2 separate regions of the Homo sapiens genome follow, and region 1 is linked to region 2. Evidence: fine-mapped expression QTL. A gene starts in region 2. The other region holds a variant in brackets. All regions are shown on one strand. Distances are from middle to middle.

The links. PIP is the estimated chance that this variant, and not a neighbour inherited with it, causes the effect.
Region 1: its variant is fine-mapped to the expression of GRAMD4 in whole blood (TOPMed, PIP above 0.99).

What each region holds. Positions count from the first base shown.
Region 1 is chr22:46,588,128-46,596,369 of GRCh38, reverse strand. It overlaps a transcript of GRAMD4 not described here. Among named protein-coding and RNA genes, the nearest start is that of GRAMD4, 28 kb to the left of the region's middle. RefSeq lists silencers at 2,808-2,867, 8,195-8,242. The variant A/C (reference allele first, on the strand shown) is at 3,310.
Region 2 is chr22:46,616,306-46,624,683 of GRCh38, reverse strand. GRAMD4 (GRAM domain containing 4) reads right to left here and starts at 4,298. Exons shown (of 19, transcript NM_015124.5): 1 at 4,119-4,298. RefSeq lists enhancers at 2,559-3,070, 5,499-6,266.

The sequences.
Region 1 (8,242 bases), 28 kb after region 2:
TCCCTGCAGGACCCTGCAGAAAGGGCCGCCAGGGACATCTGTCATCCTGGCCACACTTACGTCTGTGGAAACTGATGGCTATCAGCCTCATAAATGTGATTTCACCAGTTAAGACTCCAGCCCCGATGGCACGAGCCAGCAGCCAGAGTCCCTATCCACGGGAAGCAGGGGGCTGGGCACAGCTAGTCCTTGTCCTCATGGTCAATCCAGGCAGCAGAGAAACTGCGCCAGGCAGCCCTCTGACCTCCCGTCATGGTGCTGATCCAGAACTATGCACAATGATTCCAACAACGTGTCCTCAGAGTGAATTACGAGAAAGTGAACCCATCCTAATGCACTGAAGCAACGCTTCCAGCACGGAGAGCATCCAGGGTCTGGGTGCTTGTCCCACCAGGATAGCAGATTCTTTCTGACCCTCTGCAAGCCCCTCGGCCAGCTCCCACTCCTCCTGTGCACCCACTCCTCAGCCTCCCTGGGTAAGCTGGGAAGGTGGCCAGGGTACAGAAACAGCACTGGGTGTTAAGGCCGGGGATCTGGACAAGTCGTGTTTCACCCTGGCACCTGTCAGATGGGGTGCTCACCTGCCCATGCAGTCACCTGCCTGTGTGGCCTGGGCTTGTGGTTCTCTGGGTGTCCCCATCTTGGCCCCCTGACCGGCCGCAGGGGTCCCTGCGATGACTTGGAGGGGCAGCTGGAAAGGCTGTTCTGGTGGCTGGGTGGGAGGGGTGACGCTCAGAGGGTTCAGGGCAGGAAGAGGGGCCTCCCATGGGTGTGCCCAAAGCCAACCTCACCTAGGGCTGAGCTGCCTTGAGGGGCGCCTGTTTTTCTCTCAAAATGTGGAATCCTCTACCCCTGCACCTCTGTGCCCATACTGACCACCAGGCCCAGAACATCAGGGCGCCACCTCCCCTTTCCAGACACAGGGCCAGGCCCATGGGCTGCAGGATGAGAGTCCCTTGGGTGGGGGACCTTTGTGGCATAAAAGGGAGATTCACAACCCAGGAAAATAAAGTCGGAAGAGACACTATGTCCAGAGGCAGCCAAGTGAAACACCAGTCCCAGTGGCCAATCTCCCCCATGTCCCCGTCTGGATTGTTCCAGAACCCTGAGGCGTGCAGACCCGCTGCGTCGCATGGTCTCTACCTGTAGTTAGTACCCACGCCCACCCTGGGATTGAAAACGTGCCCCTCTTGGGTGCCTGCCACTGACTTCACTTCCCCCACCCTGTGTGTCTCCAGGGGAAAGGCACACTCTCCCCCCGGGCCGCATGTGGGGCTGGGATGCGGACCCAACTTTCCTGCTGCTTTGCCTCGACGCCAGGCCACGCAGTCCACAGGAGGCGGGAACGACAGGTACCTCGGTGACTGGGCACCGCACTCAGAGCAGCAGAAACAAACCTGGTGCAGTCAGAAAGCCCAAGTCCCGATGCACTGGTTACCAGCAGCGGACACAGGCACAGCAAACCACAGACAGCAAAACTTAGTGCTGGCCGGGCTGGAGCCACTCCAGAGCGCTTCAGAACATGTGGGGCGCCCCTCCTCACCCCCAACCCCAGCTCCCCGTGCTGCCCCTCCCCCAGGGTTTGCAGGGCACCAACCCTCTCCTCCCTCCTAGGAGATGCCACCTCACCTGGGACCAGGACAGCCCCAGCCTCCATCTCCAGTCCGGCCCTCCTAGCCCCCCAGGGCAGGACAGATGCCAGGGCCAACTGTCCTGAGACCAAGCTCCACTTTACCCCTGGACATCTCTGTACCCAAAGCCTCCTAAAACACCTAACCCCCCCCACCCAACCAGAGGTCCCTCACCACCCACACAAGCAATGCCCCTTCCTCTACCAAGGGCCCCCCAGAGGGCCAGGAGCCTCCCCCTACCCCAGCCCTCCTCTGGCCAGTGCTCCCGCCACCCCACAAGTGCCAAGGATCCCTGAACACACCTGGCCCCTCACACCCATGTGCTTGCATTCCTGCCCTGGCCTAGAATGCTCTTTATCATCACCCACCATACCCACCCCACCCGCCCACTTCCACCTGTCCTTCCACAAAAACAGGGGCAGGGAGGAGGGGCCCACCAGGCAGGTATGGCCTGTGGGTAGAGCTACAGCAGGTGACAGTGTGGACCCAGGCAGAGAAAGGTGTGCATAGGGTGGTGGGGAAGGGAGAGCACAGGACACACAGAGCTGGGGCAGGAGCCGGGCGTGGGGCAGCTGGGGAGGGGCTGGCGGGATGCTGGGGTGGGGCTGGCAGGATGCTGGGGAGGGGCTGGCAGGATGCTGGGTATCAAGGCTGGCTTCTGCTTGACGGTGAGCCCAGAGGTTCCCATTACATTATTAAAAATAACGAAAATATGGCTGGGTGAGGTGGCTCACGCCTATAATCCTAGCACTTTGGGAGGCCGAGGCGGGCAGATCACCTGAGGTCAGGAGTTCAAGACTATCCTGCCAACATGATGAAACCCCATCTCTACTAAAAAAATACAAAAATTAGCCCAGGGTGGTGGTGCACGCCTGTAATCCCAGCTACTTGGGAGGCTGAAGCAGGAGAATTACTTGAACCCAGGAGGCAGAGGTTGCAGTGAGCTGAGATCGCGCCACTGCACTCCAGCCTGGGTGACTGAGCAAGACTCCATCTCAAAAAAATAAATAAAAATAATGAAAATAGACAAAAGAGGACTATGCACAGACGCCCAACAGCAGCACAGACCCCAGGCCAATGACGCATCCCATTCTATGCCCCGGAAGCCCAAATGATGAAAAAGGGAAGAGGTCTCAGCCCACAAGCCTCCTCCCTTAGAAGGCTGCCCCAGCACTGAACAGCCTGCTACGGGAAGTCACTTAATGCAACACTAGCCCACCTCTGCCCGCCCGCCATGGGACTCTCGGTAGGCCCTGCGGCAGGGGTTGGGGGGCGGTCCCACCTGCCCTCCCTGTGCGGCAGGCCCAGCGGAGAAGAGGCAGTCAGAGAACACCTGCCAAATGGCCAAGAACAACAACGTCCCTTTCACCGTCCAGCTGCAGAAATGGGGATGTCTCTCGCCAAGACCGCCTGCAACAAGGGCCGCCCGCAAGGAAGCTTCTGCTTGATGTGAGGTTCCGGGGAAAAGGAACCAGGCAGGGGAGAATCCCGTGATGGTTCATCAGGCCTCAAAGTCAGAACTTACGACTTTTTAAACGTTTCAGTACAATTTACCTTTCTGCTACTGGTACTGGTAAAGAGGAAAGGTCTGCAAATCAAATAACAGTAAACAAGATATCGATGTTACTTAAGCAAACACGTTACTCTCAAGTATTTGAGAACGGTGTGGATAAAACCA[A/C]TTCCTTTTATGTTTTTGTTCAAATGCTTTCTTTTCTGAAAGCCCGCATGGAGAGTTCTAATTTAGGTTATGTTGGTGAACAAAAATAATCACAATGTGGGGTTTATATCTTCTAATTATACAGAATTTAGGACAAAATATTCATGTAAGTGATTCTGGAATACTTCATAAATAGGTCATATAGGCTCTTTTTATTGCCAAAATTCTTGAAACTCAGTGCAGCAGAGTCATTGTCTCCATGTGGAACTGAAAGCAAGGCAGGCAGCCAGCAGCCCCTCCACGATGCCGGCCACATCCTGGAGGTGCCGGGCGCGGTGTCAGCCAACAAATCAGCCGACACTGGGGTTTTTAAAGCCCCTTGCAGAGCTGGTCACCATACATGTGGGCCGCAGAATTCCAAGACTCTCGGGAGAGAAATTTTGCTTCTGCAGGCGTAGAGGATGTGGTTCCTCCCTGGTGCAGTCGGAACAGTGAAAACATTCAGGAAAGTAACTGAATCGAGCCCCTCCCGGCTGTGAATGACTGAGTTCACCACACAGCCACAGTGGGGCTTCTTCACCTTGCTCGCCATGACTCAGTGCTAACAGCCCACTTCATCCTTTTTTTTTTTTTTGGAAACAGGGCCTCCTCCCTATGTTTCCCAGGCTGGCTTCAAACTCCTGGGCTCTATGGATCCTCCCGCCTTAGCCTCCCAAGGAGCTGGGACCACAGACACGCACCCCTGCACCCAGCTCTGCTGTTTTTAATCGTACAATTAAGCAGTCAGTTATTTAAAAATACACACTTGCCCAACTTAAAAGAACCACACTTATTTATCAATTATGCCAGCTGGGCTGGTGGCAGTAGCAGTGGGCCTCATTCCCTAGGGCACTCTGGGGGCGCAACCCTATGGGGACTGTCCCCCAACTATGGCACCACCTAACCTGAGCCCCGGTGGCCCTGCTGAGCTGGGCGTCAGGATGAGGTCTCGACTCCCGTGACATCAACCAACTTTCCTGGAATGTGCCGTGATGCCCTTGACAAGTGTGGGGACTTGGGGGCGAGAGGGAGGGCCTTGCTGTGTCAAGCCTGCAGGCACAGGAGGGGACACACCAGTCCTGGGCTGGGCCCCAATGTCCACTGATATCACAGATGCTTTCTGACTGTCCCTGGGCATGGCTAACTGAGGGGTGCGGGGGCTGAGGGGTGCGGGGGTTGGCCTTTCTGGGTTTTTTTTTTTTTTTTTTTTGAGACAGAGTCTCGCTCTGTCACCCAGGCTGGAGTGCAGTGGCTTGATCTTGGCTCACTGCAACCTCCGTCTCCCGAGTTCAAACGATTCTCGTGCCTCAACCTCCAGAGTAGCTGGGATTACAGGCACCCACCACCACACCCGGCTAATTTTTATTTTTAGTAGAGACAGGGTTTTGCCATGTTGGCCAGACTGGTCTCCAACTACTGACCTCTGGTATTCCACCTGCCTCAGCCTCCCAAAGTGCTGGGATTACAGGCGTGAGGCACCGTGCACGGCCCGGGGGTGGCCTTTATGAGGGATGCAACCTAGGACTTCAGCAATGTCCGTTAGCCTCTGCCTCATGGAGCTTCAGTAACGTCGTCCAAATGAATTTGGTAAATCTGTCCAAAACAACAAACCCCAACTCCCACCTCAGCCTCCCAAGGAGCTGGGACTACGACATGCACCACCACACCCAGCTAATTTTTTATTTTTAGTAGAGATGGAGTCTCACTATGTTGCCCAGGCCGTTCTCAAACTCCTGAGCTCACGCAATCCTCCCCCTCTCAGCCTCTCAAAGTGCTGGGACTACAGGCATGAGCCACTGCACCCAGCCCTGTTAATTTCTGTTTAAGTCCCTGAAGAGAGAATTTAAGATAACGAGAGATTTCACTATCACACACTGGACCCCGCGGCTGAGAGGGCAGCAGTTTCCCACCTTAGGCCATTCCAGGGCTCTTGCCTTCTCTGGCTGTTTTTTGGGTTTGTTTGTTTTTTTTTCTTTTTCTTTTTAGACAGAGTCTTGCTCTATCACCCAGGCTGGAGTCCGGTGGCACGATCTTGGCTTACTGCAATCTCCGCCTCCCAGGTTCGTGCAATTTTCATCCCACAGCCTCCTGAGTAGCTGGGATTACAGGCACCCACCACCATGCTGGCTAATTTTTGTATTTTTAGTAGAGACAGAGTTTCACCATCTTGGCCAGGCTGGTCTCAGACTCCCGACCACAGACAATCCACCTGCCTCGGCCTCCCAAAGTGTTGGGATTACAGGCATGAGCCAGTGTGCCCGGCCTCTGGCTGTTTTTATAAACTAGTAGTGTCCATCGTCCTTAGCTGTCCTCAGACAACACTGTGGACTCTCCCCCAATCTCTCTGAGCTCCTCCTCCCCTCACCCAAGCACGCCCTGGCGGGACCTCTGCTGCTCTCTCCCTCCCCTGTTGACACTCACCTGGGCCCAGCCCGGGTTTCTCCCCTCCCATTCCCCTCTACCAGGCCACCAAACCAGGCCAGTCACGAGCAACAGGCAGACACCAGCTGACTGGGTGTTAACGGCAGCAGCCCAGGCCTGGTCACACACACAGTGGCCCAGGTCACCTCCTCCTTGGGACGCGCTCCTGGCCAATCCCAGCCCTCGGGGTTAGTGGAGCGCTCACCCATCCCCGGCACCTTCTCAGCTCTCTGCCAAGGACTGGCTGGAGGAAGGACACTGGGAGAGGTCCCCAGTACTCCCGAACCCCACCCACTAGCCACCTTCCCCCAGCTTCCCAATCAAAGCCTCCCACCAAGAGGAATCAGGCCGAGGGCCATCCATGTGGCCCCAGAGCTGTCACAGTCAGACTCCCAGCTCCGCCCCTCTGGACGCAGGAGGCACGCAGGGCACAGGGCTGTCCAGGCGGCCCAGTAGCTGGTGTAGATGTGGGGGCAGGGCTCTGGCCCCCCAGGCCAAGGCTCTCCTGACTGCCACGGCTCTGCCCACCCGGGCCAACAGTAGGCAGGAATCAACCAGACTCAGGGCTCCCAACCAGGCCAGGACCCATCCTGCAAGACTGCCGTGGGAGTTACAGGAGGCGACACGGCCTCCCCACCAATACATGCCGCAGGAACCAGGCAGCAGGGAGGGCCACGAGGGGAGCTGGCTGAAGGGGTAGGGAGAAAGCTGCAGAAAGGGTGTTGACAGGAGGCCTCTCTGAGGGGCTGAGGGAGGGGAGGCAGTCAGGCTGCTGGGGAGCAGGGCAGGGGCTGAGGTCCTGGCAGTGCAGCAGGCCTCAGGGTGCACACAAAGCAGGTGGGTCACCTAGAAACCTGAGGAGTGGGCTGGGCCAGAAGAGTTAAGGATCCACCCCATGAGGCTGAGGAGTGATCTTCCAAAATACTTAAATAAAGCAAACAGAGCGGGACTGGGGGGTAGCCACAGGGCATGGGCCCTGCAGGCAGAGCTGGGAACTCTCAGACACCCGCTTACTCACCTGCAAAGCAGGGGCAGCATGGGCCCTTCCAGGGTCACTGCAGAGGTGGCAGCCACCCCCCACATCCCCTGGCCCCAGCAGGTCTTCAGATAATAGGGCCACCCACTCACCTTCTCCCTGGGCAGCCCTCCCCATCCCCCCAAACAGCCCAGCCCCACACTGGGCCATCTGCCCTCGGGCCACGTGAGGCACAGCCCTCACACCCACGGCTCCCCCATATCAGAGCTGCCCCCACACCCAGGACTCCCCCACATATCAGAGCTGCCCCCACACCCAGGGCTCCCCCACATATCAGAGCTGCCCCCACACCCACGGCTCCCCCATATCAGAGCCGCCCCCAAACCCAGGACTCCCCCCAAGAGCCAGGGCTGCCCTCTTTAACAAGGCTCCAGGGCTTTCGGGAAGGCAGCAGCGACTGGAGGGACAAGGACACTGAGCCAGGGTCTCCCAGCTCTGAAAAGGTCCTCCCTGGAGCACCAGCAGGCTGGGGAGTGTCGCCCATCCAGGTCCCCCCGCCCCCTGCCGTCCCTGCTTCTCCCATCAGTACTGACGAAGCACCTGCTGCGTACCCAGCCCTCTGCCCAGCGCCACAGTTACGAGCTGTGGTTGCACTGCCACGGGCCAGCACAGGACATCTCAAATGTTTAAGAGAACTCTGCTGTCACCAACCTTACTGTGGGAGGGGGTGGGGAGACGCTGGCAGAGGCTGGGTCACCAGCCCCAGGCCCCACAGCTATGACAGGACCTGAGAAGAAAGGCTTCGGCTCCAGCCCAGCCCAGCCTGGGCCACATCCAGGCTCTGCCCAGCCCGGACCGACGCCAGTGTCACATGCCCTCCTGAGACCTGTGTCAGGGAAGCCTAAGGACCCCGGGGATGGAGAGGGCGGTGCTGGGGCTCCTGGATCAGGCCGGGGAAGGAGGACGGACGAAAGGGTGGGCACCCCGCAGCTCCAGGAGCACTGGCCACCCCTGCCCCCCAGCCAGGAACATCTTCAGATCGCTCATTCTCCAAAGGCAGCTGATGGCTAAGACTGCGAGGGACAGGGTGGGGCCTTGTAAAAGCTTAGAACGTGGCTGGCCAGAGGCCACAGCTCCCCTCTTGCCCTCTGTAGTGGTTTGACCCACTCCGCAGATACCAATATGAACAGCACTCGCCCGGGGAGGGTGCTCCAACAAGCCAGCCGGGTCTGCCCCACATCCACAGAGCTCAGCAGGCCTGCCACCTCCCTGCCCTTGCGTGGTGCTGCCTGGAGGGATGGAAGACGGACAGCCAGACAGGGACGGAGGTGTGCTGACCTCAGCTCTGCCCCTCCTGACCTACTGGCTCCTCATCCATCGGGTTGTGGGGGACGCTGGGCAGTCACTGGGGTTACCTGGCTTCTCCCATGCTCCTAGGTTCTCAAAGCAGATGGGGTGGCTGGGGGTGACCCCCCAGGGCCTGCCTATCCTGAGTCACAGCTCTAGATGTCCGGTTTA
Region 2 (8,378 bases):
AGAGGGACTAAAGGTTCAGTCAATTTAAAAACACACAAACCTTAAAAGAAAAGAGAACAGCTGGGAGCAGTGGTTCACGCCTGTAATCCCAGCACTTTGGGAGGCCAAGGTAGGCGGATCACGAGGGCAGGAGTTCGAGACCATCTGGCCAACATGGTGAAACCCTGTCTCTACTAAAAATACAAAAATTAGCTGGGTGTGGTGGCGGGCACCTGTAGTCCCAGCTACTCAGGAGACGGAGGCAGAGGAATTGCTTGAACCCGGGAGGCGGAGCTTGCAGTGAGCCAAGATCACACTATTGCACTCCAGCCTGGGCAGTGAGACTCCGTCTCAGAAAAAAAAAAAAAAAAAAAAAAAAAGGAAGAGGGAACTTAGTAGCTATGAAATCCCTAGAGAGAAGAAGATGGAAGAGTCTATATTAAGGGACTGAAAAAAAAAAAGCCACTAAGTAAAAATGTCTAACAGGCCACCAGGCAAAAGTAAAAAGCTCTCATTTGTAAAAAGAAAGTAAAAAATGTCAAAATACGCTATAAAACAAGGAATACAGGTAACAAATATGATACATGAAGGATTAATATCCATGTTACAAGACAACTTGACTAGGCCAGGTGCGGTGGCTGGCACCTGTAATCCCAGCATTTTGTGAGGCCGAGGTGAGTGGATCACTTGAGGTCAGGAGTCTGAGACCAGCCTGGTCAACATGGCGAACCTCCATCTCTGCTTAAAATACAAAAATTAGCTGGGCGAGGTGATGTGCGCCTACAATCCCAGCTACTTGGAAGAGTGAGGCAGGAGAATTGCTTGAACCCGGGAGGTGGAGGTTGCAGTGAGCCGAGATCACGCCACTGCACTCCAGCCTGGGCAACAGAGCAAGACTCTGTTTAAAAAAAAAAAAAAAAGGCAGCTTGACAATGTAGTCAATGTAGCAAAAATGACAAGACCACTTCCTAATACGCGAAAACCTTCAAGCTCACTAGAAAGGAAACTAGGCCGGGCATGGTGGCTCATGCCTGTAATCTCAGCACTTTGGGAGGCCGGGGCGGGCGGATCACGAGGTCAGGACATCGAGACCATCCTGGCTAACACGGTGAAACTGCATCTCTACTAAAAATACAAAAAAGTCAGCCAGGCAAGGTGGCGGGCACCTGTAGTCCAAGCGTCCCAGCTACTCAGGAGGCTGAGGCAGGAGAATGGCATGAACCCGGGAGGCGGAGCTTGCAATGAGCCGAGACTGCACCACTGCACTGCAGCCTGGGGGGCAGCGTGAGACTCTGTGTCAAAAAAAATAAAATAAAATAAAGAAAGGAAACTAAAGCTAACCCGGGCTGCGGAATGCGGCAGAGCAAGCACACAGACGCCCCCTCAACCGGCCACCCCACAACTCAGTACCAGGACCCTAGGACCAAGCTCAAGAAGTGGAGGCCTGGTGGGGGGAAACACGTCACACACCATCCATCAAGACCAGCAGGGCAGGGGGTCCTGGAGCACCCTGGTGGACCCACACAGGACCCCGTCCTTGTAAAGGGATGAAGGCAACTAAAACCGGGACCTTCCTGTGACTGTCGTTATGGCAAACAGGTGCGTGAAGAGACTCGGGCGCTATGGGGCCAGACGTCGGGAGTATGGGCTTACGGTGGTCGTTAACAATTCTCTCTCCAAATCTCCTAAAATGCCTCCCTATTACTTCTTTTCCCACAATATTTTTTAATTACGGTAAAACACACATAATATAAATATTACCAATTTCATCAGTTTTTTTTTTTTTTTTTTTAGAGATGGAGTCTTGCTCTGTCGCCCAGGCTGGAGTGCAGTGGCGTGATCTCGGCTCACTGCAAGATCCGCCTCCTGGGTTCACGCCATTCTCCTGCCTCAGCCTCCCGAGTAGCTGGGACTACAGGCACCCGCCACCACACCAGCTAATTTTTTGTATTTTTAGTAGAGACGGAGTTTCGCCATGTTAGCCAGGATGGTCTCAATCTCCTGACCTCGTGATCCACCCGCCTCGGCCTCCCAAAGTGCTGGGATTACAGGCGTGAGCCGCCGTGCTCAGCCCAACTTCACCAGTTTTTAGCGTGCAGCTCCGTGGCATAAATTACATCTGTGATGCTGAGCGGCTGCCTCCGGACTCGTCTTGTCTAACTGAAACTCTGCTCACTGAATAGGAACTCCCATGCCCTCCCCAAGCCCCCGGTAACCACCATTTTTACTGCTTTTTAATGTTTAAAAAGGAAGGATGAACGGGCTAGGGGAAGTGTAGCAATGTAAAACCTACTTCCTTCCATTTTCAAAAACCCGGCGAGTCCTCCTGGTTGCGGCAGCTGAGAGGGAAGCGGAGGGGATGACCCGGGCGCTGGGGCCTGCAGGCCCTGTGTAGGGCACCGAGCTGGCCTCCACCCAAGGAAAGCAGGGGACACGCTTGGACACGCACAGAACTCTTGGCTGCCTGCAGGGCTCTGGGCAGAGGACAGCCCCCTTGTCTGGGAGGCTGTAATTCCGAGGCCAGGGCTGCCTTCCCAATCACCTCAGGCAAGCAAATGAGGCAATGAGAGAGGGGACAAAGGCCCTGAGTGTCCCGCCTGTCACCATCAGAATGCAATGCGTGCCCCGCCAGTGTCCAGCTACTCCTCAGTCTGCTCTCCCAGCCACCGGCTCAGCCCCAAACCCAGGGTCATCCTGCTGGATGGTTCACAGCGGCCCTTGGGGAGGGCGTCCACACATCAGGGTCCTAGACGACCCTGCTCTCAGCCCCACTGACTCCACCACCCTCCTCACCCAACTCCCTGGGTCCATCAAAAAGACAGACTTTTCAAGCTTCGGTCAGTTAAGAATCAAACTCCATGTCACGACACATGTCACCACACACTGCCAGGGATGGACCTTCCAGCCTTCACCACCAGGGATGGGCCCGGGCTACACTTCCAGCCTGCGCCTGCACCGGGGTAGGGGTGCCCTCCGCGACACAGCGCCAGGGACGGGCCCGGGCTACGCCTCCAGCCTGTGCCTGCACCGGGGTAGGGGTGCCCTCCGCGACACACTGCCAGGGATGGGCCCGGGCTACGCCTCCAGCCTGCGCCTGCACCGGGGTAGGGGTGCCCTCCGCGACACACCGCCAGGGATGGGCCCGGGCTACGCCTCCAGCCTGCGCCTGCACCGGGGTAGGGGTGCCCTCCGCGACACACCGCCAGGGATGGGCCCGGGCTACGCCTCCAGCCTGCGCCTGCACCGGGGTAGGGGTGCCCTCCACGGCCACATGGGCAGCCCCCGCACTGCACTGAAGAGTGCTCCACTGTACACCAGGGTGACTTCATCTCAGTGACATCTGCAAAGAGCCATTTCCAAGTAAGGTCGGGTCCACAGGTACGAGGTGGACATGAATTTTGGGGGAGGACACTATTACCCAGCACACGCCCAACTTACAGATGCAGGAACCAAGGCCCGTCTACACACTGAGCATAGCTCCAGGCTGCACCTCAGGCCAGACCCGGGTCTCCCGACACCGCCCACCTGCGTCTCACCTGCACCTTCCGTCCTGCGTGCTGCAGCCGCGCATCCCCAACCAGACGGCCCCTGCCCTCCCCACTTCTAGCTGCCCATCCCCACCCCCTCCACGGTCCCTGGAGGAAGCCCAGCTCCTCAGCCTGCAGCCCAGCCGCTCTCCCCAGGACCAGCCCCTCCACCTGCACCTACAGGCCCACCCCTGGCAGCCCAGGGCCCCTGCAACTCCGAGCCATGCGGCCCTCTCAGATCGGCCTCCTCCCTCTCGGATGGGCCTCCCTCCCTCTCAGATCGGCCTCCCTTCCTCTCGTCCTGTCAGGTTCTGAGGGGCTTCCTGGGAGGCTCCTCCTCTTGCCGGCCCTCCTGACCAGGCCAGGTTCTCAGGAGGCCTCCACCCTTCCTCACTGGACCCCTGGCCCCGGGCTGCGCAGGTGCTTTACCGGTGGGGTCTGGCCTGCACCCGGCCTTGGGAGGGAGCCTGCCTTTCAAGATCAAGATGGCTCCAGAAGAGCACGTGGTAGCTGGGACCACTGCCCCAGAGAGTAGCAGCTTTTCCCAAGGCTGGGGCTTCCACTCAGATGGGCCCTACCATGTCCCCCTGCCCCCTGCCCCCTGCCCCCTACCTCCGTCTGTCTCAGATACATCCAGAAACACTCTTTCACTGTGGCTCCTTCAGGTCCTGGCCCAGAACCAGGATGTGCTACGAGGACCCAGGAACCATAGCCTCCAAGCCGCCCAACACCAGCAGGCACGGAGAGGGTGGTGTCTGCTGCCCTGGAGCCTGGAGGACTCCAGTCCTGTGCACCAGAGCAGGGCAGCAGGGCTCACCACGGCTGTCCAGGTTCTCCCAGGATCCCCCAGGCTCAGGGCGGCGCCCGGCCAGGCTCCAGGCCCTCTCTGCAAGCAGGACGGAATTGGGCCAGCCAGCCCTGGAACACAAAAGCATGCTGCTCTGGAAACCGCTGAATTGCTTCTGGACACACAAAGGCAACAGTGTCTAGGGAACCCTGGACTCAGAAACCGCAAAGGACTTTATTTCCCCTTCCCCAGCCCAAGATTTAAAAAAAAAAAAGTGGTTCCTGGTCTCTGGCGCTTGCCCTGAGCCGTGTCTCCTTCACACCATCTCCCCTGCTAAAGTTCCTCTCCGAGTTCTGGGTCCCTGGATCACAGCTGACCTCCACATCAGGGCCCGGCTGCTGGCACGCCCTTCATCCCCTTATTATCTGGCGGCTCTCCTGCTGATCCTGGGATAAACAGCATCCGCTTTCCCACAGCCGCCAGCCCTCCTAAGCAATGTCCCTGGGGGACTCGCAGATGTTGAGCGACACAGACACACCTCCCCCACCCCCACTGCAGTGGGCCCCAGCCCCCACCTGGCCCTCCTCCAAGTCTCAGTCCTCTAGGGAAGGTAGCCCCTAAACCTCACTGTCAGAAAGGCCTGGATGGAGGTTAGACCAGCAGCTGGACAGCCAACCTGGGCAGCTGAAGAGGACGTGAGGATGGGGCAGCTGGCAGACTCCAGGGCTTTGCAGAGTGAACAGGAGGACCGGGGGCGGCCAGCAAAGAAGGCCTGGTTCTACCAATACCCCATCGCCAGCCAGGCACCAGGGCTCAGGCCTGTAATCCCAGCACTTTGAGAGGCTGAGGTGGGCAATGCAGTGACACAGAAAGTGAAATAAGAACATGAGCCAGCGTGGTGGTACGTGCCTACAGTCCCAGTTGCTCAGAAGGTTGAGGCAGGAGGATCGCCTGGGAACCTGGGAGTTTGAGGCTGCGGTGAACCACGATCGTACCACTGCACTCCAGCCTGGGTGAGGGCCAGACCTTGTCTCTAAGAACAAAACAAAAACATCCACCCCAATGTCCCCATGCTTACAGCCACATACTTGCACCTCCCTAACTCCTGATGCAAAGAGGCCCAAGGACCCAGCACACACACAGCTCCCTGGGCCCTCTGGGGTCCTGAGACTGCAGATCCTGCCCTTCCAGCCCGTGCCCGACCTTGGCCACTATTGTTCCAACATCAGCCTCAAGAGGTCGGCTCACAACTGATGACATGTGTGCTGCCCCAAACTCAAGGCTTGTCCAGGAGTTTCATCCCCTCCCTGGATTCAGGCCTCAGTCCTGCCAGCTGGGCACAGTCAGGCGGCCTCAAATGCTGATGTCCGTATCCGGGTGTTTGGCTGCTCTCAACCCTGCCCCCTGACCTGGCCTCCCTGCAGGCTCCAAGCCGGACAGCTCACCAGTATCTCAACTATGCCACGCCTGGCACAGACTCGGGTCTCAAGGGGCACTCTGACTGGATGGCACCGTGTCCACCAGCTGTCTGGGTGAAACCCTCAAGAGCCCTTGATAGCCCCGTTCCTCACTCCACTGCCAACCTGCAGCGCACGCCGGCCGCACGCCTCCAGACGGGGCTGCACATCTGTCCACCTCTCCCCACGACCCCAGCCTGGTCCAGGCAGCCGCGTGCCTCCCCTCTCCCCACCACCCCAGCCTGGTCCAGGCAGCCGCGTGCCTCCCGAAGCCTTCTCCACATGGCAAGCATGGTGAGGCCTTCAAAGGCAAAATCAGCCTCTGCAGCGCCCCTGCCAAAGTTCTCCAGGGGCTTCCACGCACCCGGGTCAACACGGCTGCTCCCCCGACACCCTCATCAGCTCTGGCTCATCTAGGCTTGGCTGCAGCTCTGCCGACCCCCTTTGCAACCCTCCGACCACCGCCTCTGTCCCCACTGCAGGGCCCGACACGTTTGGCTCCGGGACGTCGCTCATTTGCCCCATTCCCTAGGCGCCGCCCGCTGTCATTCCACCATCCTGTTTGGTTTGACGTGGGGTCCTTGGATTGCCCTGATGGCTTCCTTGTTTAGCGCTTGTGCCTCCAGTCCTGCTTGGTTAGAACCCGCCTGGTGCTCCCCCGGGGCAGGGGCTGTGTCTGGCTAAGTCTCCAGGGGCTCGGCTCTGCCGGTGATGCTCAGGTGGACTCGAGCTGCAGGCACCCGAGTCTCCCTCTGCAGAGCTTGGCACGTGGTGGGCAGTGACAAACACTTGTTCAGAGAGTGAGGGAGCGACACACAAAGGCAGCCCAGATGCCACGGCTGGGGGGTCCCCGCCAGCCTGAGCCCGCAGCCACCAGCTGAGCTTTCTTTCCTCTGCCAGAGGCCTCAAGAGAAAGGGACACCCATGGACTAGGGACACCCATGGACTCTGCCTTGGGCCCTGCCAAAGCACAGCGTCCCTGAATACACAAAAACTTTTAACTACAAGCCTTCAGTGATCTGGGATGTTTCTCCAGGAAGAAACCTGAATTCCTTCCCTTGGCAAAGTATCTTCAGGCTTGAGTCATACGAGGGTCAGGCTGGAACCCCATGTGGGGAGCTGAGCCTTCTGCACTGTGACAGGGAAGCCACCCAGGGGGGCCAGGGAGCGGGCCCAGGGCTAAGCACACCCTGGGGTGCTAATGCCAGCACGGTGTATGGCCCGCTCTGGGGCCACTTGCCAGCGTGGCCCAGGAGAGACAGTCAGGAAGACTGGGAGGGCCAGGAGATGCCTACGTGAGTCTCCGCTTCTTCCTCTGTGTGCTGGGATCCTGCCCAGGCCTGGGGAGGAAGGAGCTGGTTAATGTTTAAGGACCCAACACAGAGGAACCTACACGCACAAGGGAACCTACACGCACAAGGGAACCTACACACGGGGAAACCTACACGCACAGGGGAACCTACACACAGGGGAACCTACACGTATGGGGGGAACCTACACCCAGGGGAACCTACACACAGGGGAACCTGCAAGCACAGGGGAAGCTGCACACACAGGGGAACCCGCACACATGGGAGAACCTACACACGGGGGAACCTACATGCTTAGGGGAACGTACACACAGGGGAACCTACATGCACAGCAGAACCTACACACGGGGGAACCCACAAGCACAGGGGAACCTACACACTGGGGAACTTACACATGGGGGAACCCACACGCACAGGGGAACCTACACACGGAGGAACCTACACGCACAGGGGAACCTACACACGGGGGAACCTACACACACAGGGGAACCTACACATGGGGGAACCTACACGGACAGGGGAACTTACACATGGGGGAACCCACACGCACAGGGGAACCTACACACGGGGGAACCCACACGCACAGGGGAACCTACACACGGGGGAACCCACACGCACAGGGGAACCTACACACGGGGGAACCTACACGCACAGGGGAACCTACACACGGGGGAACCTACACGCACAGGGGAACCTATACGCACAGGGGAACCTACACACGGGGGAAACTACACGCACAGGGGAACCTACACACGGGGGAACCTACACACAGGGGAACGTACACACAGGGGAACGTACACACAGGGGAACCTACACACACAGGGGAACCTACACACAGGGGAACCTGCACGCACAGGGGAAGCCACACACACAGGGGAACCTGCACACACGGGGGAACCTACACGCACGGGGGAACCTACACGCACAGGGGAACCTACACGCACAGGGGAACCTACACACAGGGGAACGTACACACAGGGGAACGTACACACAGGGGAACCTACACACACAGGGGAACCTACACACAGGGGAACCTGCACGCACAGGGGAAGCCGCACACACAGGGGAACCTGCACACACGGGGGAACCTACACAAGGGGGAACCTACACGCTTGGGGGAACCTACACACGGGGGAACCGACACGCACAGGGGAACCTACACACGGGGGAACCTACACGCACAGGGGAACCTACTCACGGGGGAACCTACACGCACAGGGGAACCTACACGCACAGGGGAACCTACACACAGGGGAACGTACACACAGGGGAACGTACACACAGGGGAACCTACACACACAGGGGAACCTACACACAG